Homo sapiens: one gene and its partner. The protein of the gene in region 1 interacts with the protein of each later gene in a biochemical or structural test. Each region holds a gene or a part of one and is shown on either strand. Other genes may lie near its edges. The genes, in order: CXCL14 and GPR85.

Evidence for each region.
Region 2: the proteins of CXCL14 (region 1) and GPR85 form a complex in vitro, tested with the Homo sapiens proteins (one study listed by BioGRID).

What each region holds. Positions count from the first base shown.
Region 1 is NC_000005.10:135,575,282-135,585,325, reverse strand, and holds the start of CXCL14 (C-X-C motif chemokine 14 precursor), read left to right. Parts: upstream 1-6,334; 5' UTR 6,335-6,547; coding exon 6,548-6,611; intron 6,612-6,786; coding exon 6,787-6,892; intron 6,893-10,044. UniProt on the Homo sapiens protein: Potent chemoattractant for neutrophils, and weaker for dendritic cells. Not chemotactic for T-cells, B-cells, monocytes, natural killer cells or granulocytes. Does not inhibit proliferation of myeloid progenitors in colony formation assays.
Region 2 is NC_000007.14:113,082,561-113,093,675, forward strand, and holds the start of GPR85 (probable G-protein coupled receptor 85), read right to left. Parts: upstream 4,268-11,115; 5' UTR 3,762-4,267; intron 3,608-3,761; exon of another isoform or gene 3,550-3,607; 5' UTR 3,432-3,549; intron 2,332-3,431; 5' UTR 2,162-2,331; coding exon 1,049-2,161; 3' UTR 1-1,048. UniProt on the Homo sapiens protein: Orphan receptor.

The DNA of each region.
Region 1 (10,044 bases):
CAAACAGCCTAGCCAAGGAGACAGGACTTGGCGGTGCCTGCACAGAGGCCTAGGACTCTGCTGCAAACATGGAACAGGGCTGGTGAGAGAGGCAGGAGGTGGGGCAGAGCAGAATGAGGACAAGTGAGGCCGGATGGAGGGGCTGCTTGTTCCCCTGTGCCAAGCAGTGGGGGACAGCTCTAAAGATGGGCCTAGACCCTCACCATGGGACTCACCCAAGCCACCAACAACTCTACCTGCCTCTCTGCAGTGCCACCTGCACAGCACAGGTGCTCATCGCCCATCGCCAGCGTCTGCTCAGTGAGGCTGAAGGCTGCCCAAGCCCTCGCTGAATCAACTGCTCCTGAGTTGCTGTTATAACAAGAACATTCTGAAAAACTGGAAAGCAAGGAGAGAAGCTTTACAACAACAATGCCCAACATTTCGCCACTCAAAGAGAATGACGTTTGTAACTCTGTCTTGCCATCCTTTGTACAGAGGTTACTGTTTTGCATACTTATAATCACAGTGTTTACACAACCTTGTGTTTTTTCTACTTACTGCATAAGCATTTACTCCACAAATTTAGAGCTTTCATTGTTTTCTTAATCCCCCATTGTTGGGCATTTAGTTTAAATCTTTATTTTTAACAAGGACTAGCTTTGCATGTGGTATTTCTCCATTATGAGAATTTTAAACAGATTTCTGAAGTGGTTAATAAGATGAAATGGTTTACTTCAAACAGTCTGGATACCATACTATAAATATAACTTCCCCAAATTTTGTACCAATTGATAGTCCCATGAGTGATGCTTAAGTGATGCTTCCTCACTTTACCATTATCAGCTTTGGATGTTGCTATTTAAAATAAACATTTCCTCATTGAGTGGGACCAAAACCAAAATGCCGTGATCCTGCAGCACTGCTGTGCTTTTCCTTCATTGCCAAAGAGGATGCATGTTCTTTGATGAATTGGTTAATTGCCTTTCTTTTTCTCCTGAATTGTCCTTTGATGTCCTTTGCTCATTTATATGTTAGGGCCCTCTTCGGAAATATCTTTGCATGTGTTCTTAATATAATAAAGATGCTTGCCTGTAAGGGAGTGTTGTTGGATGAATAGATGGTGGAATAAATGCTACTTGTTGGTTTGTCATATTTGCTGCAAGCATTTTCTCCCATGTTTAGGGGAATCTTGCAGTGCCCCCTGTGACCCATCTGAGTAACAGAGCCCCCCTACATACACTCTGCCTCGGGGCTGCTTTAAGCCTAATTCAATACTGCCTGGCTGTCCCCCACATCATTTTCTCTGGGCTTAAGTTACTCAGGATCTCTAAATATTTGCAGTGTGAAGAACAAAACCAGAGGTTGTTCTTGGGAACCTTGGTCCTTCAACTTCCTTCACCCCAGAGCATGGCCAGGGAAGGGGTCAGCATGCAGGGCTGTAGCTGAAAGAAAGCTGCACAGAGGAGGCAGCTGGCTGCCCAGACTCCACAGGCTGCAGGTGAACAGACAGAGGGAGGAGCTGGAGAGGGAGAGGCACCCGCCAGGCTTGGATTCAGAGCCAGCAGCCACACAACACAATGGAAGCAGGTATTTTGGGGTGACCCACCATGTCATGAGTGGTGATGGGGCCAGACAGGTTACTGGAGCCCAGGATCTTGCTCTGGCCTAAGTAGCTAGGTACAGGACACAGAGACAGGAGGCTGGCTAACATTAATGCACAGGGAGATCTTGTATGCAGTCAACCCCATTGCTGGGCCTCAGTTTCCTCATATGTACAATGAAGGCCAGTTGTGGCCTCAGCCTCTACCAGTGCTGAATTCTAGGATTCCTGTCCTGCCAGGGAAGTAAAAAGGACTCCTCTTCTGAAAAGAAGGTCAGTCACGAAAAGAACTAAAAGAATGGGGGAAGGAATTGCCCTGGATCCCAGCTCCCAGGGCAGAAAACCAGCCTTGACCAGTCAAGACCCCTTTCTAAGCAGACCAAGGAGGTAGTGCCCAGACACCTGTGGGATTTCCTGGAAAGTCACACTCCTGTTATCACCACCTCCTCTTCCCAGAGACTTCATCTCTAAAACAAATGCCCTGAGGATGAACTGGCTTCCCTGGGAATATGGACTCCCCATGGCCACCCCTACACACACGCAAACACACACACACACACACGCACACACACTTTCTCACATGCAACCTTGTAGCCTGTGCAGCCTGGATTCAGCAGTACTCTCACATGCTGAGCTGTTGCCTGAAACATGTTTTTATTTACTCCACAGATAGGGAGTGAACCCCTGCTACATGCCAATCACTGTTGTAGATACTGAGGATGAGCAAGACAGACACCCACAGACACAGACAGATCATCCACAATGCACCCCCAAATAAATATGAAAATGTACAATTTGAGGTTGCTGCACATACAATGAATAAACTAAAATCGGTGGCAACACAGAGAGGGACTGTTGTTGGGGGTATGCTCGTGGGATTAGAACTGGATGGTGAATATTGGAGCCCAGGCTCACTGAGGAGAAGAGGGTTGCCTGTCAGCCCCTGGGGAGGAGCACTGCAGGTGGAGGGGCCAGTGAGCACAAAGACCCTGAGGTGGGAACAGGCTTGGATGTTTGAAGGTAAGACAAGGCAGAGTATCTGGAGCACAGCCTGTGGGGAGCATGGCAGGTGCTGGTCATGATTGGGTGCGCACTGCTGGGGACTTGGCTTCCACTCTGCATGAGATCGGGAGCCAGTAAAGGGTTCAGAGCAGGGACTTCCCCCAGGAGATCACTGTGTGAGCAGCAGGGACCATGAAGGGCCAGGAGTGGCCTCCCTCCTGTGGTCACTGGTTAATTCCTTTCCATCCTTCATATCTAACTCAATGGCCCTTTCCTCCAGGAATTTGTCCCCACCTCGTCACCCTGTCAGATCCCCTGATGAGTCTCCTAGCACCAACCACCCTCCAGGACACTGACCTCTGCAGGAGTTTCACACTGATCTCTGTGGTTTATAGCTAATGTCTGCCTTCCCCACTAGACTCTGAGCTGCTTGGGGACAGGCACACAGCTGCCTTGGCTCACCTCAAACCCCCAGCACCTCGTACAACGCCTGGGACACAGTGGGTGCTCAATAAATGTAAAGAGAAGAAATAAGCAAATCCCTGGGGTCTCAGCAAAATTTCCACTCCCTCAAGGAGTGATGTCCTGTTTCCACTTCCTCCCTCCTCTGTGCCCCCACACTTCACGTCTACCTCTTCTGTAGAATCCAGTATGACCATGAATGTGTTGACATCTGCACACATGCATACACACACACAGGCAAGGCATGTGTGCTGTCCTTCACTGTACCCCAGGGACCTCCTTGAAGCAGACAGTGCCACTGTACAAAGAACGGCCTCACACATGCCCACCTGCTCAGAGGCCCTCGGCTTGGGCTCACTAGACAGTCTGTGCCCTGAAGGTGTGTCAGGGGCCAAGCCCCCTCCCTCACCCAGTTAGGCAGCATCCCCCACAGACCTGCTGGCAGCAGGGGCCTCATGCTCTCCTGTACCATGGCTCCAGAAGAACTCACACAAACAAGGGCTCAGCTCTGCTTGCACAGTGGCTGCCTTCTGCAAACCAGAGATCTGCATACACAGACTGAGGAGTGTAACTGAGGACAAAACACTGGGACGTCTGACCTCTGGTCCAGCCCAAGAAGCTGGGGAACGTTGGTCCATATTTCTAGAGCCAACTACTTTTTCCTGTGAAAACTCAGTGCCCACGATCGCTGGTGTTGTTAGATCCCAGTTAATCAATCAACATATTCTTGAAACAAACATGTTAGAAATAAAATCGTTAATAAAAAATAATACTTTACATGCTCTAGGAAAGCTTGGTATTTAAGAAATTCCTTTGCAGCATAAAATATATTTTTTTGGAAAGCAATTGGCAATTTCTATGAAAAGTCTTAAAATGGGCATGTGCCATGGCCCCATGATTCTATTTCTGAGGGCTGATCCAATGTATTAAAACCTACCCCAAAATGGAGCTACAAGAATATTTGTCAAACAGCATTGGTTGTAAGAGGGTAAGGTTGAAAACAATCCAAATGTCCAGCAAGGAGTAGTCAAATTAATTCTGGTACATCTGTATGACGGAATACTCTGCAGCTAAAATCATGATAACCGCAATGGTCAGCACATATCAAACACTTACTCTGTGTTGGGGACCACATTAAAAGCATTACATGCACTATCTCATTTAATTCTGCCTATGCTGTACATATTATTATCATCTCCATCTCACAGATGAGGAAACCAATACCAAATAGAGTTAAGGTATTTGCCCAAAGTCACACAGCTAGTCCCTAGGATGCATACTCAGGCAATTTGACTCCAGACACCAGCCTCTTAGCCATTATACTACCCGGCCTCAGATGAAACCATTAAGGGAGCTATTGTTGTAGCAAGGCTAGCCACATGGAGCGATGTTCACAATATGCTAATAGGTATAGCAAGCAGGTTATTAAAGACTACATGCAGCCTGATCCCATGTGTACATGTGCACACAAAGCAAAAAGAGGATGCTTTGGGAAGATTTCACCCAAGATTTTACTTGCGTGAAAATGTTAGTTTTCTTCTGCTTGGGTTTTCTGATTTTTCTGGGCAAACGTGTTGTTTCTATATTTTAAAAAATTATTTTTAGAGTTAAAAACTAACATAAATGCCAAAAGTCACTCCCTCATACTCATCTCATGCATAAATGCAAATGTCCAGCTATTGGCTTTGCTTTAGGTATAGGCACAACAGCACGCATAGGCGCTGCTTGCTTTTCATGGCTCAGCTTCTTCTTGAAGCAGCAAGGGCTCTCCAGTTGGGAAGAGACGACACAGATTCTTCCCATTGCACCCTTCAGCAGACTGTCCCCATCATCCAGAAGCCCTCTGGGCATTTTTGCCTCCAGGGAACTGCCAGGCTGATGGCATAGAGCTGGGTGAGCTCTCTCCTGACAGCCAAGCCCAGGGACTCCAAGAGCTTGAGATGATCCACCTCCTGTCTCTGGGTCTCTCAAGGCAGCAAGAAGTGAAGGGCAGACAGGCCTCAAAGCAACAGAGTGGTCCAGGGACAGGAGTCCCAGTTCTGCAGCCGTATATACTGAGGACCCTCCTGGCCTAGTCACCTGCTTCCTAGCTCTGTGACCTTGGACAAGTTATTTCTTCTCTCAGAGCATGTTTCCACACCTGTCAAATAAAGAAATTAAAAGTACCAACTTGGAAGAAAAGTACCAATTGGTAAGAATCAAAGTAATAGATAAATTAGACATAAAACGATGGTGCCAATAAGTAACATTTCCTGGGTACTGACAACATGTATGATTTCTATAGTTCTCACAGCCACCCTATCAGAAACACTGTGATGATCTGCACTTTACAGATGATGAAACAAAAGCTGAGAGCGGTAAAGTCACTTGTGCTGGAAAGTAGTGAGGAGGGAATTTCTGCCACTATGGCTGGGCTCACACCACTATACCTCGCATTCTGGCACAATGTCTAGAACATGGGAAGGCCTTCATCCAGATGGTTACCACTGTCATCGCTCTCCACTAGGGCTCTCTACCTGGCTTTGGAGAGTAGTGTGAGAGTGAGGACTCCTCCTGGTTCTCCCCACCACCCAGACACTCACACAGCCACCAGGCCACTGACCCACTTTAAGGAGCTTTCCTTTGGGAGTCACCAAAACTCCTCCCCAATACCCGTCCCCACCCCCGCATACACACACATACCCTCTTTGAGTCAGTTCCAGTGATCACAGTCAATGACTTTGCTGCTGGACAGTCTATGACAAGCCCCTGTCCAGAACTGGCCTTGTGTTCTGGCCCAGCAGGGGCCCTTGGGGGTCAGGCCTGCAGGCACTCACACTTGGCACCTGCTCCAAAACCCTTTCAGGTCTTTGAGGATCTGAGCCCTGGGCCTGGGTCTCCCGCCGGCTCGGAAAAGCTGGCCTGCCGGGCCAGAGAGAGAACCACACGATTCAGAAAAGCAGTGCCCTTCAGCAGCCTCTCCACCGTCTGGGCTCCCCAAAGGCAGAGCGGGACGCTGGAAATGTGTGCGCGCTGTGGTATGGGTGTGCAAGTGTGCGAAGGCGGCGTGTTGTGTGAGCGAGAGGGTAGCGGATGTGTGTGTGCGTGTGCGCGCGTGGCTCCGGGTGTGCGCCGCTGCGATAGCGGGTCCTTTCCCGGGGCGGGCGACGGGCGGGCTGGGAAGGTCTCCTCCCCTCACCACATTGAGAAATCTCAGTGAGTCACCGAGTGGTTCTGCATATTAATGAGCTCGCTCGCTGCGAGGGCAGGAGCGGATTTAAAAGAGGCCAGGGCGGGCGGAGGGAGGCTGTGGAGAGAGCGCGGAGACAAGCGCAGAGCGCAGCGCACGGCCACAGACAGCCCTGGGCATCCACCGACGGCGCAGCCGGAGCCAGCAGAGCCGGAAGGCGCGCCCCGGGCAGAGAAAGCCGAGCAGAGCTGGGTGGCGTCTCCGGGCCGCCGCTCCGACGGGCCAGCGCCCTCCCCATGTCCCTGCTCCCACGCCGCGCCCCTCCGGTCAGCATGAGGCTCCTGGCGGCCGCGCTGCTCCTGCTGCTGCTGGCGCTGTACACCGCGCGTGTGGACGGTGAGTGCGGGGAGCTCCCCTTGTCGCCGTCTCGTCTTGTCCTGTCCTGGGGAACCCAAGCGCCAATTTCTAGGCATCCTGGGATCCCGCGGGGGGTGGTCTGGGTGGGCACCAAGGTGGTCGAGGGGCAGGAGACCGCCTAGCAACTAAGCCGTTGCCCCGCGCTCGCTCGCAGGGTCCAAATGCAAGTGCTCCCGGAAGGGACCCAAGATCCGCTACAGCGACGTGAAGAAGCTGGAAATGAAGCCAAAGTACCCGCACTGCGAGGAGAAGATGGTTATGTGAGTTCTCGCTCCTCACCTTGAGGGGGTGCGCACTGCTGTCAACCCAATGCCAGGGCACAGCCTGGGCCTGGGTCGGGCTAACAAACATTTCTCTCCGACTTTGTCAAGGCCCTGGAAAAGCCTTTGTAATTGCCCAGAGAGTCCTTAGGACGCTGGCGAGACACTCTGGAAGACAGTCGGGAAGGGGGGTCACTGTCCCGCTCCGGAACAGCGCCTCCAAGTTCACCCTTGCTAGGATTCAAATGAGCAGTCTCCCTATTTGTACCATGGGCCACCCACTCTGCTAGGGCCATCAAGGGTTAAAGGGTTCCCTTGTGCCAACTCAGAAAACCTAGACTGAAATCACTTAAAACACACTCACACCCAAACTGTGAGGCGTGCTGCCTTCCTGTCACTGGATAGAGGACTAATGCAAACACTATCTTAAATCCTGAGTCTCCTTCAGAGCCTTGTTCCAGTCAGAGACAAGTGGACCGCAAGTTTTTGGCTCCTAGAGATTTTATTTTGAGAACGCTCCACGAGCTTCCCTCACCGACTGTACTCCTTGTGGGTCCCCAATACGGAGCAGTACTGCAGAAAGTGCTCTGCTGGGGTTAATGTGCCACATGGCTGGAGCCCTGCTTGGTGGGGATGTGGGGAATGTTGGAAAAACTGGGGCAGAGTGAGAGAACACTTAGTTTCTTGCTCCTCCGCCTTCCCAATTAACCACTTGAGGCCAGCACCGCTGCCTCCTCATCAATATGCTCTTGGCCAGGAAGGGAGCCCTTGGCAAAGCGGCTACCAAATATTTGCCACAGACCATTGGCCCCTCTTCCCCTCCCCCAGAAACAGGACGCACTTTATTCTCAGTCTGGGCAAGTGCCCTCCACCAGCTGGCCCCCACCGGCGCAAAGGCCTTCACAGTGTCTGCGAAAGCAGTGCACACCCCTACCCAGCACCCCCCATCCCCGTCTAGGGGCTACACTGTCAGGCTGAAATTAGGGGAATTCAGAAATCCACTGGAACTGAGCTGACCCCACTGCCTTCCTTCACAGACACCTAAATTAACTTGCTTGTCCCTACCCCTTGCCTTGCAGACCAAATTCAAAGAAAATACCCAAAAATCCTTTTGGGTGGGGGCCAAGTGTCAAATGAGCTGGGAAAGGAGCTCCAAGCTCCTCAGGGCTTCCAGTTTGGGGGCTAAGAATGACAGGGGAATTCCAAGTTAAATCTCACTCGTCTAAGAGCTGAAAACCACTCTATTAACCAAACAAGTTTCTGAGACCTTGCAGGGGAAGAAAGCAGGGTAAAGGATGCAGTGATACCTAAAAAGGACAGAGCCCTCAGTAAATAGGCTTGCTCTTTTCCTGGCTAAACTTTTCCACATATAGAGAAAAACTATAGCTAGGCAAGTGTGAGAAAGGCTTTACGGAGCCTTGTAGAAACGTGCAGGGGCCTCAGGAGATCAGCACACAATCCAATCACCCTCTACTAAACCTCTAACCCACCCCCTAGGGCCTCCCACTCCATCCCTGAGGGCTGGGGGCTCCTCTCCCCCTCCACAATCCTAAAACTCTCCAAATCAGATGAGGGGCCAGCACTTTTGCAAAGCAGGTTTTCAGCCACAAAGGCTGAACAAAAGCAAATTTTCCAGCTTACCCTGAGTCACCCAGAAATCTCTGCTGAGGCTGGGGGTGGGGGCAGGAGTAGGGGCGGGGGGAGAGGTCCGCTTTGCAAGTGGGAGTCCTTGCACCCAGAAGGATCCAGGAGAGTCCGAATTCTAGAAAGAGCAATTTGTGTCATAGGTCCATGGAGCTCTCACCAAAACCCTTACCCCCACCGCCAGAACTGTGGAGGAGAGGGTCACAGGACTCAGAATTTCTGATAGTTGCTGGAGTCACAAATCCCTATGTCTGCACTCCACAACCGATTTTCATAATCCCAGTATTATGACGTGGCATTTGAGCACTGTAGTGAGAGGGCTGAGTGACCCTTCCTGCTCTCCCTTCCTGCTCTCCCTGACCTTCAGGATTTGGGATGCACAGCCTGCACACTGACCTAACTGAGAAAGGGTTTTTATCAGGCATTACCACGTCCTTTCCTTCAGAATGCTAAAGCAGCCTTGTAGGCAGAAAGAGAAAAGCATTTGCTAAATTCCTGCAGGGTGACTGGGCACAGTGGGGGAGAGAGACAACCAGAGTTCACTCTGAAGCCTGGCCTGTGCTCAAGGCTAGAGGAATGACCCGGAGTCACAGAGGAGTCCAGTCAAGGCAGGCACCATCACCTGGCATCAGCAGGAAGACCCGCCCCTGCCCCAAGGAGCTTAGGCCCTAGCAGGGACCCCAGAAACCCAGAGCACGGAGAAGGGAAGAGAACAGGTTGCCTAGGAACATTATGCCCCCATTCTGGTGGCAAGATCCGATTTTCTTTCCCCATCAACTGGGAGACTGAAGTAATGGGAATCCTGTCCCTTCTAGAACTTAGCCCATATAAGCCATGACATTTTCCATTTGGTTAACAGTGGGGAACTAGCTGACCTCTGTCCCTCTCTTCTCACTCTTTCCACTCTCACTTCCAGTCTCCCCCTTTGCCCTCCAAGCCCATTCCAGCACCCCAGTCTACCATCATGGCTTGCATGGCTGTGACCCCTCAAGAAGTGGCATCCTCACCTCTCACCTTGCACTTTTCCAAATACCCTAGGTGGTCTCTTATTCCCCACAACTCCTGTCATGCCTGTGGCCTAGAGGTGCTCAGAAGTTCTGAGCAGCAGGCTTGCCTCGCCCTCCAGGCTGGAGCCCCCACAGCAAGGCTACTCTTTCCCCTTGGCCACTTCATCTTCCATGACCAATGACTAGTAACAGTAACTGTTAATTGTGCATCTACCAGGTCCTGGGTACTTTCTAAAGATTGTATCTTTTAATCATCCCAATAACCCTGTGAGATAGTCCTATTATTATACCCATTTTACAGATGGCCAAACTGGATTCAGAGAGGTTACCCAAGGTCCCACAGCCAAATTTGAGATTCAGTCCCAGGCCCTTACAGTCTGCACAACACCTGCTTCTCTACCACATGGCTAGGCTTCTGCTGGGTGTTGGGACATTGGCTGATAGAGGCCTGAGATCTTCAGGCTGTGCAGAAGAGAGGTCTTACTCTTCTGCTTAGGGGTG
Region 2 (11,115 bases), on another chromosome or scaffold:
CTGCCTGCTTCTTAGAACAGTTTAGAAAGGGTAGCACACCGTAGAAGAAAATCTCATTATTTCAGTGATGTGCACTTTAAGTTTCAAACCATGTGAGAAAAAAGGAAAAAGTAATAAATGATCTTCCATGCACTTTTAGATGCATGACCATGACCAGTTACTGATTTGATTTCCCTTGGCTATTTGCTCCAGTGCTAAATAAGATGAAGGATACTAGATAACCCTTTAAGGCAACATGTATTTATTCTGCATTATTAGAACTGCTCAGTTGTGACAGGCTGGTACCATTAATGTTGCCTCCCAGACCAATATCTAGCATTTGTAAAATATAAATGAATTGGAAAAACTTTATACCAAATCAACAAAAACCACATAATACAGTTCAATGCTAGCAATCTTACTAGTAGATGAGGAAAGTGGTATTTAGAAATAGCAATGTATTAATACAAAAAAAGTAAACTCTAATTGGAACCAATATACTGCTTTGGAATGCTCCCCAGAACTTACAAGGCGGTTTTTAAAGTGTGATATTCCAATAATTCATTGGCACGTCTTTAGTGGATTACAGTACTTTAAGTCCCCAAATATTTTAGTCTTTGCAAAACAATAGTAGTATGAAATGTTTTAAAGTCTTCAAACTTCTAAAATTAGTTTTTATCAACACATTTACCTCATGTCAACTTAATTTATTAAGATGTCCAATGCTAATTGTTTTTTGATGTTTTTTCATATGTAGTGACATACAGAGCATTTAGCACTGATACTTAGCACCTGCTACTTTCATTATCTAGTTTTTGACCACATAAAGAAACTTAGGGCAGTGGTTCAGTCCCTTCTTAATTACAAACCTTTGCTGGCAGTCAGCAGGATCACTCTGAGATTTAAAATAGGATTATAGGTGAACTATTGCAAAGACTGCAGAATGTTGCCCAAATCCTTAAAACTGCTGATTCCATTCTTGAATTTCTTCTCAAAATATGGCTATGGGCCACAATTGCTCAGCAGAGAAGGTTAGTTTTCACAAGGCTAAAGATTTACAGATGCTCCCTCATATAACACAGTAAGGTTCCCTTGGTAACCTGGATTTTCTGCAGTAAAGAAGGGTTGTGCTGAAACAGCGCCTCAGCTCCCTGTTTGAGAAAATGCAGACAAAAGGATTGATTCCTGCTTGGGCAAAACTCATCCAGACAGCAGCTGTTAGAAATCCCCCTGGTACTACAGGCCCTCTTGCAAAAACTCTCCAATAACAGGCCACCAGGTAGGGGCCCCACAAGGTTAGAAACAGAAAAGTCATTATATAGAACATTCTGCTGATTCTTTTCTCCATTTTGAACTCGTCTAAGACCAATAGCCTTCTTCTGCCTGTGGTGTTTGCATTTTGCCTGATGCCCAGCAAGGTGGGTGGTGTGGGACCCCTTCCAAATCCTGCTAGCCAATTGGCAGCTGCCTGGCCACTGGCTCCAGGACCATGAAAAGTCCAGTTCTGGCTGACTGCTGCTACAAACTGGACTGGCTTCATTTTTCTTCGATCGTGGACGAAAAATATCAGCTTGAGGTAGACAAGCTGTGTGGCTAGGAGGATGAGAGCAAGAAGCAGCATAAATCCTAAGGAATCATTAGCCCTGAAGGAGCGGTGTTGGAAGGTGCATTGATCTTCCTCCCTAATGAATGAGTAAGTGCCCACGTCTAAAACCGGGGGAAATGCCATGGCCACAGACAGAGTCCACACCATACAGATCACAGCCAGACACGTCCAAAAGGTCAGCCTCTTTGTATAGAAGCGGTGATGGGCGATAGCTAAATATCTGGTGACACTGATGCAGAAGAGCATGAAAGCAGTGTGGAAACAGGACAAAACCCCCAGAAAGGCAATCACTTTGCAAGTCAGAGTCCCATAAGTCCAGGTAGAACCATTTTTGACAGAGTTGAACACAAATGGGAAACAAATTGCAGATCTGAGGATATCTGAACAGCAAAGATCCAACAGGAAGTAGTAAGGTGCTCTATGCAAGGTCTTATCTTTCACTAGCAAAATGGAGATCAGGAGGTTGCCCACCACGCTGACTCCTATTATGAAACCCAAGGAAGTCAGTTTCAGAAAGGCTGTTAGAGGCGAGAGATTTTGCAAAATGTTGTCAGCTGCATGGCTATAGTTCGCCATAGATGGATGGAGGATAAGGATACAGCCTCAGTCAAGTCTCATGATCTAGATATAAGAACAAGGAAAAGATAGATCCATACATTTTACTGAAAATATAATCCACAAAGAGAACTGATCTGATCTGCAGTCATGCTTCCTCTTTTCTTCCACTTGTTTTGCCATCAGAATATCTGAAAAAAAAAAAAAAAAAAACCTATCAGTTCTTAAGTTAACAAGCAATGATGTCAGACAGTGCTAACAAAGCTGTTCACTTATGGGGAAGCAAATAAAGTTTTAATTTTGAATACTAATATTTGCTTTACTAAATATTTTTGCTCGAGATTTCAGAGAATTGGCTTGTTTAGTTTTTCAAGCTAAGTGAATTTTAAAATGTCCCTATTTTGGACAATATACATTTGATAGGGTAACTTTAGGAGAGAAGGAATAAAATGTCCCATTCTTGTAAAATATGCCAGTCCAGGAATTAACCACTAGAATTGCAATGGAATCTACAAGATTGCTATTAGGAGGCAGAGACACTACCTACATTTATTTGAGATCTATTAGTATCTGTCAGTGTTTCACAGGCAGCTTCTCTGTTTGATGTGGGTCCAAAGAACCCGTGCAAAATATATCTTAAGTGCCACTATTCATGCTGCATAAGAGTATTTGTTGATTCATCTTAAAGCAAAATTTCAAAATTAACTTCAAAATTAATAGGAACTTACTTGTCCCAAGATTTGATGTGATTTAATCATTTGTCTTTCCCTCTCCACCCTACCCCCCATTTCTGGCAAATCTTTTAAGCCCACATGATTATTAAAATGGTTAATGTAAATATTGGACAGGGAAACACACCCAGAGGAATAATGCACTTCCATTTGTAAACCTTGGCTGCCTGGATTCAAATGAATATAACATGAACCTGTATTTCTTGGGCAATTAAGCCTTTCCCATTTACACTGATAACCTTTGTTGCAAATCACAAGTGGCTGCTTTTTAAAACAAAATGCACATTGTCTCGCAGGTGCCTGGACCACACCAGGGAAATCGGCTTCCTCTGTTATTCCCACCAAGCGTGTTTCTTTTGCCACTTCTCACTGGCCCGGAATATGCTGGTGGAAGCCCAGGCAAAACTGCGTTCGATGATTTTAATTTCCCCACCGGTACATCCTCGGGTAAATACCGATCGCATCATGCAACATTACGAAACCTGAAATCCGCCACCCCTGGATTTATAATGGGGGGAGGGTGGAGGAGGGGGAGAGGGAGAGAGACATGCATTACATACGCGAAGATGGGGAGAGAGATTGCTTCTGTGCTGCAAAGGAACCGTTCCCGGTGATTCGCAGTCTGATATTCCTCAGTCTTGTAAGGCTTTCCAGAAATGGAGCTCTCAGTAAGCCCTACTGAAGATGCATTGTCTGAATGTACTTCCATTATGCAGTTTATTGTCACAAAACACATACACACACACACACACACACACACACAGAGACACACACACACACACACACACACACAACCTGAGGGAGGGCTCTTTCTCGGTGAACCTGCAGTTTCATCAACACTGTGCATTCCCCCACATCCCCCAAACTTAACCAAGAGTATATCCTCCTACCTGTTGGTGTTGGATATCCCGACAGACTATAGCTTCTTTCTATAAATTGCTGATTTTTTTCTTTTTTTCTTTTTCTTTTTTTTTTTTTTTTTTTTGTTTTTTGTTTTTTTTTTTTTTTTTTTTGCCTTAGTGCCTTGACTGAGCATCCAGGCAGGGCTCGGCGGCGCCTGCGCGCTGGAGCCTCCTTGAGCTCCAGCCGCGTCCTCCCCTGTCGCAGCGGCACCGTCTCCCCCAGTAACGCAGGGGCCGCGGCGGCGGCGGCTGCGGTGGCGAGGGCGGCGGCGGGGCTGCTTCAGCCTCTGTGGAACCAGCAGGAACCCCTACCTGACTCCAGAGCTGGCTGGGTTTATTGACTGCCCTGTCCAATCCAACTGGCAGCATTAAGCTTTTGTCCCTTCGTGGCTGCTTCTGAACTTTTCCCTCCCCGCATTTGTAGTGGGGGGCTGGAAAGGCCCTTTCAGGACCTCAGGCCCATCCTCTTCCCAAAGGCAGCGCACGAGGAAGTCACAGTGCCCGTGACGCCCGCCCCCTCCCTCAGCTTCCCGGAACCCTAACCTTCCCCAGACACTTTCTTCCCTTTTCTTTTAGGGTGGTCCAAACCACCGGAGGCTTCTTTTATATATTTATTTTTAAGTGATGTCTCCAGCTAACCTTTAAATTTGCAGGTTAGCTGGAAAAAGACAAGAAAAGAATGGGAAAAAAGAAAAAAAGTTATTTATTTATTTATTTATCTTTTTCCCACAGTTAAAAATCTTTTCAATGGGGAAGAAGGGAAGGCACGTTAGGGCAGCTCTCTCTTTGTTAGTCATCTTCTATTCTCCAATGCACGCAAATATGCGTAAAAGTAGGGAGAAAGCTAAGTTCAGAGGACAACTACAATATGATTTACATTCAGTCTACCTTAAAGGATGTCACTAAAGAATCAGGCTTATAAAATGTTTAAATGGCTATTCCTGGCATTCCACCCCACCAAGCAACAGTATTCCTTTTCCCTTCTTACAAGTTCCGCTGACCAATGATGGGTGATGTCAAAGCAGTTATGTGTACGAGTTTCCTTTTTTCCCCTTTGTTATTACAGATGAAAAATACTAGAAATATAACAAATACGTAAAACTTACACCAGTCCAAACGGTCGGATGATACCACAGACACCACAAAGCCTGACACGTGGGTGCTTAGGAATGCCTCTAGAATCATGCATTTTCTTATTTTACCATTTCCGAAGAGTTTTGTTTGTGGAGGTGATATAAAATTTTAAGCAACAACTTCCCAGTTCTCCTACCCAAAACTAGCAGACACGCTTTCATTAATTCCCAATGTAAAACGTCTGCTTCTTTTTCTGCATGCTTTTTGCTTTATAATAATCTGTTAATGAAACAAAAAATAAAAATCTTCTCTACAGTAATAATCTGATCTTGAGACAGCAGTAAAATACCTCATTGCTGGGTGGTGAGATTGTGACATTCAGGGGAACTCAGGCCAATCAGCATACAGATAATATGGGTTAATTTACATACTGTATTTCTATTGGATGAGCCGAGGTAAAGCCTTATCTTGATGTCACAGTCGTTACACAAAGCCCTATGTTGGTAATACTGAAATGATGTTAAATTTCCCTGATTTGTTCTTGAATTTCCTACGTCCATTTAAATACATGGATAATAGTTTGTTTTTTTCGAAAAGAATATACACAAGGCACTAAACTTTGGCATTCCCTTAACCTAGAAAAATCAATCCTACAGCCATGCTGGAAGTAACTTGAGGGCATTTCCATTCAAATAAAACATTCCACTTTTTGCAAAGCAAATGAATTCAAAACTCAAAACCATGTGGTGGTTTGCAACTTCTAAGTAAAATGTCAAATTCGTTTTTATGAAACTACAAATCACTTCAACTTGTGCTTTTTTGCTTCCCAATAAATGCTTCAATGTACTTTGCAAAGAGTTATTTCCTGAATTTTTACAGTTTTAAAAAATGTATGGAATAAGAGGCTTAAGTTTGCTGAAGATTCATGATTGGTCAGATGTTAGGTTGTACAGATTAGGGAAAAGCTATTTTAAAGTAAATTAAAAGAGTCACTGCACTGCCAGGCCATGAAGCAGTAATATACTCTGCCAAAAGTTATAGGGCCAAGATCCAAGGGTTTTAACTAGTCTTATTCTTTAAGCAGATATTGATTCCTTAAAAATAAGGGAGAGGGTATATGTGTATGCAATATTCTTTCATATCCACATCTCAGGGTATAGTAAAGCTATTTTTTTCCTTTGCAGTTGAGCACAGTTACATCCACTAATTCTTCAGCTTTTCCAGCTGTTGGATAAGAATGTCATTTTCTTGCCTCACAAGGGGACTCAAGAAATTAATGAGATATTTTCTATCTAGCTCATTAACTCTACTGGAGAAAACATTGGAAGCTACATCTTTCATCAGCAGGGCTTTAAAAAATATGTTTAATAGCTGACAAAAGTTTCATATCATCTACAAGTTCTCAAATGTAAAGTTATTGCTTCAAATTGTTTAGATCATAGGCTTAGTTGGTCTTAACTAATTTCTTTTTTTTTTATCCCCTACATCACCAAACCCAGAAAATTTGATTTTCAGGTTAAGAGTAAAAGAACAAAGCAAATACAACAAAACTATATGCTCTAATCCTTGGGTTTGAAGGGTTCTGAAGATTTACAAACTGTTGGAATATTACATGTACTATATTGATCAGTGTATTAGGAAAACTGATATAATTTGCTTAATTTGGTTCTTATAAAAAGTACATACCATTTTATTTTAAAAACCAATGACCTTGCTTTCAAAATTAATCTATTTCAGATTTTTGCCAACTGATGCATAGTATCATGATCAGCAAAAACAGTGTTTTTTTCTGTGCATTGTTTACATGAAAGTGTGTGTCAGGAAATAACACTTGGTAATTGCAGAGAATAATAGACTAGAATAAACATTCTAAATAAAAGATTTTTAGTAATTCATTTCAAATGACATGTCTTCTGCTTAAAGCATAAAACGTGTGTCTTTGGTGCTCTCAACTGTTACCAAAATTTAAAGTTGTATATGAAAAAGAGCCTTTTTAAAGTTTTCTTTAAAACTTTAACTATCTTTTTGATGGGGTTGTTTGTTTTTTTCTTGTAAATTTGTTTGAGCTCATTGTAGATTCTGGATATTAGCCCTTTGTCAGATGAGTAGGTTGCGAAAATTTTCTCCCATTTTGTAGGTTGCCTGTTCACTCTGATGGTAGTGTCTTTTGCTGTGCAGAAGCTCTTTAGTTTAACTAGATCCCATTTGTCAATTTTGGCTTTTGTTGCCATTGCTTTTGGTGTTTTAGACATGAAGTCCTTGCCCATGCCTATGTCCTGAATGGTATTGCCTAGGTTTTCTTCTAGGGTTTTTATGGTTTTCGGTCTAACGTTTAAGTCTTTAATCCATCTTGAATTAATTTTTGTATAAGGTGTAAGGAAGGGATCCAGTTTCAGCTTTCTACATATGGCTGGTCAGTTTTCCCAGCACCATTTATTAAATAGAGAATCCTTTTCCCATTGCTTGTTTTTCTTAGGTTTGTCAAAGATCAGATAGTTGTAGATATGCGGCGTTATTTCTGAGGCGTCTGTTCTGTTCCATTGATCTATATCTCTGTTTTGGTACCAGTACCATGCTGTTTTGGTTACTGTAGCCTTGTAGTATAGTTTGAAGTCAGGTAGCTTGATGCCTCCAACTTTGTTCTTTCGGCTTAGGATTGACTTGGCGATGCGGGCTCTTTTTTGGTTCCATATGAACTTTAAAGTAGTTTTTTCCAATTCTGTGAAGAAAGTCATTGGTAGCTTGATGGGGATGGCATTGAATCTATAAATTACCTTGGGCAGTATGGTCATTTTCATGATATTGATTCTTCCTACCCATGAGCATGGAATGCTCTTCCATTTCTTTGTATCCTCTTTTATTTCATTGAACAGTGGTTTGTACTTCTCCTTGAAGAGGTCCTTCACATCCCTTGTAAGTTGGATTCCTAGGTATTTTATTCTCTTTGAAGCAATTGTGAATGGGAGTTCACTCATGATTTGGCTCTCTGTTTGTCTGTTATTTATGTATAAGAATGCTTGTGATTTTTGTACATTGATTTTGTATCCTGAGACTTTGCTGAAGTTGCTTATCAGCTTAAGGAGATTTTGGGCTGTGACAGTGGGGTTTTTTAGATATACAATCATGTCATCTGCAGACAGGGACAATTTGACTTCCTCTTTTCCTAATTGAATACCCTTTATTTCCTTCTCCTGCCTAATTGCCCTGGCCAGAACTTCCAACACTATGTTGAATAGGAGTGGTGAGAGAGGGCATCCCTGTCTTGTGCCAGTTTTCAAAGGGAATGCTTCCAGTTTTTGCATGAACAGACGCTTCTCAAAAGAAGACATTTATGTAGCCAAAAAACACATGAAAAAATGCTCACCATCATTGGCCATCAGAGAAATGCAAATCAAAACCACAATGAGATACCATCTCACACCAGTTCGAATGGCAATCATTAAAAAGTCAGGAAACAACAGGTGCTGGAGAGGATGTGGAGAAACAGGAACACTTTTACACTGTTGGTGGGACTGTAAACTAGTTCAACCATTGTGCAAGTCAGTGTGGTGATTCCTCAGGGATCTAGAACTAGAAATACCATTTGACCCAGCCATCCCATTACTGGGTATATACCCAAAGGACTATAAATCATGCTGCTATAAAGACACATGCACATGTATGTTTATTGCGGCACTATTCACAATAGCAAAGACTTGGAACCAACCCAAATGTCCAACAATGATAGACTGGATTTAGAAAATGTGGCACATATACACCATGGAATACTATGCAGCCATAAAAAATGATGAGTTCATGTCCTTTGTAGGGACATGAATGAAATTGGAAATCATCATTCTCAGTAAACTATCACAAGAACAAAAAACCAAACACCACATATTCTCACTCACAGGTGGGAATTGAACAATGAGAACACATGGACACAGGAAGGGGAACATCACACTCTGGGGACTGTTGTGGGGTGGGGGGAGGGGGGAGGGATAGCTTTAGGAGATATACCTAATGCTAAATGATGAGTTAATGGGTGCAGCACACCAGCATGGCACATGTATGCATATGTAACTAACCTGCACATTGTGCACATGTACCCTAAAACGTAAAGTATAATTAAAAAAAAAAAAAAGACTGGGAAAAAAAAAACTTTAGCTATCTTGGTAAGAAAGGCTCTCATTGGGGGTTTTTGCACAGAAACACTTTCTGATTGATTATTTAAAAAAAAATCACCAACCTGGAATAAGTGACCAATAGAAAGAGAGATTATACATCTCCCTTTTTTGATAATGGTTTTCATGTCTTAGTTGATAATGGTTTTCACATCTTAATTGCTGCAGAAAGTGACCTTTTTCACAGTGACATCTAAGTAACTGAAAGTTTTTAGGGCATTATATTCATCTCTTTGAGGAGCAGAATGGTGAAATAATATGCTAGACAAATCATGACTTGGGAGTTGGGAATAACTATAATTGTGAACATCCCAAACAGTGAAATTTTTTCAGAATGTTAATGAGTTTTTAAAAGATTAAAAATCTGGCATGTTTCTTTCCAAAATGCTAGAAGGTTCATTTGTTAGACTTTTCTCTCTGCTCTGCCCCATAACAGGTTCCAAAGTGTTAATGTAATTCATTTTTAATTTTAAAGTTAACTGCCAGGCTTTTGAAAACTCAGCAGTTTGCCTTTTCTTCTTCCCTTTATGTTGACAATTTCCTCCTCTCAGAAAACTTTAAGACTTGTTCCTTTGTTCAATTTATTTAACAAATATTTCTTGAGCTCCTCCTACTCTGTATGAGGCACTGTGCTAGACCTTGCAAGAAATAAGAAATCGGGAGGTAGGACCAGTTTACAGGTGGACACGTCACAGTAGGGAAAGCCTGAACTGATGGAAGTGGAGCAGGAAAAATGAAGAGAAGCAAAGTAAGAGGAGCCATATTTCTTATGGAGTAATTGGCTCAGGGAAGCAAAGGAGATCAAGGGGTAAGAACAGACTCTCAGGTTTGGAACTTGGAGAAGAACTGGGAGGCAGAAGACACCATTAACCAGAGGAAACAAAAGTTAAAAAGGAAGGAGCTGGTTTGGTAAGGAAAAGAGTGAGTTAATTTTAGACATGCTGAATGTGAAATGCTGGTGGAATATTCAAATGTTGATGTGTTATACTTAGTTGGAAGTGAAGAGCCCAAATTCAGAAAGTACTTATAGAGAAACTATTGGGCGGCATTGCCAAGGGAGAGATTGCTGAGAGAGAAGAAGGTTGAGGTTAAATAGATAAACAAGTATGCCCATTCCCCTCCATCTGAACAAACCAAAAAACAAAGAGAATGCCTACATATAAGAAACAGGAAGATCATGGAAGAACCAGACATAAAACAAACCAAAAGAGGAGGATCATCTATGTTATAGACCCTGAGGGAGGAGAGAATTTCAAAGAAGGAGTGGTCATCAGTGTCAGTTGTGACTCGGAGATTTAGAAGAAAAACACATAAGAAGATATCCTTGGATCTGGGGATGATGAAAATCATTAGCAATCTTTGAGAAAGCAGTTTCAGAAGAGAAAGTCAGACTATAAGGGATTAACAAGTGAGGGACACAGGCTTAAAGGCTTATGAGGTCAGGCTAAGAAACTATTTTGTCATTAATGACAGCACTGTCTCAGTGATAAAGGTTTGAGTGAATTCTCTTGATGTTTTATGAACAAAGTGATGGTTATTTAAATAAATACAGCATGGTTTCTTCTTCTGGAAGTCTTTAAGCTCTTTTTATATTACACATTACTGAAATGTGACCCTGTGAATGAGAAGAGCAAATGCAAGTTTTCCTACTAGTGCCTGGTAAAACTTTAGAGCTTAGAGGAAAAGCCCTTTTTCTGTTAAAATATTCTAAATTGTCTCATTCAGCTTTGCCTTTTTTTTTTTTAAGATGCGGTTAGCCTCAACCATGTAAAACAAAAAAGTGACCCCCACATGGGTATGTCATGGGTGTGAATGTGTGTGCATGTGAATGTATTGGAAGGGTAGGTGGGAAGAAGAAGCAAGTGTTGGTAAAATAATTAAGAAATAGGAAGTTAATTTAATATTGAGGTTAATGGAGAGTCACACATATCTTACATGCATTGTAAATTTTCATGAAATAAAAATGCAATATAATTTTTAAAACTCTAGAAGTATGAAGTATTTTTTCTTTGACTATTCAGAGGTTATCTCAGTCATACAGTGCATTAGGACCATTATTATGAGCATGTGTTATATGATATGAGCAGATTATGGTTATTTAAGCT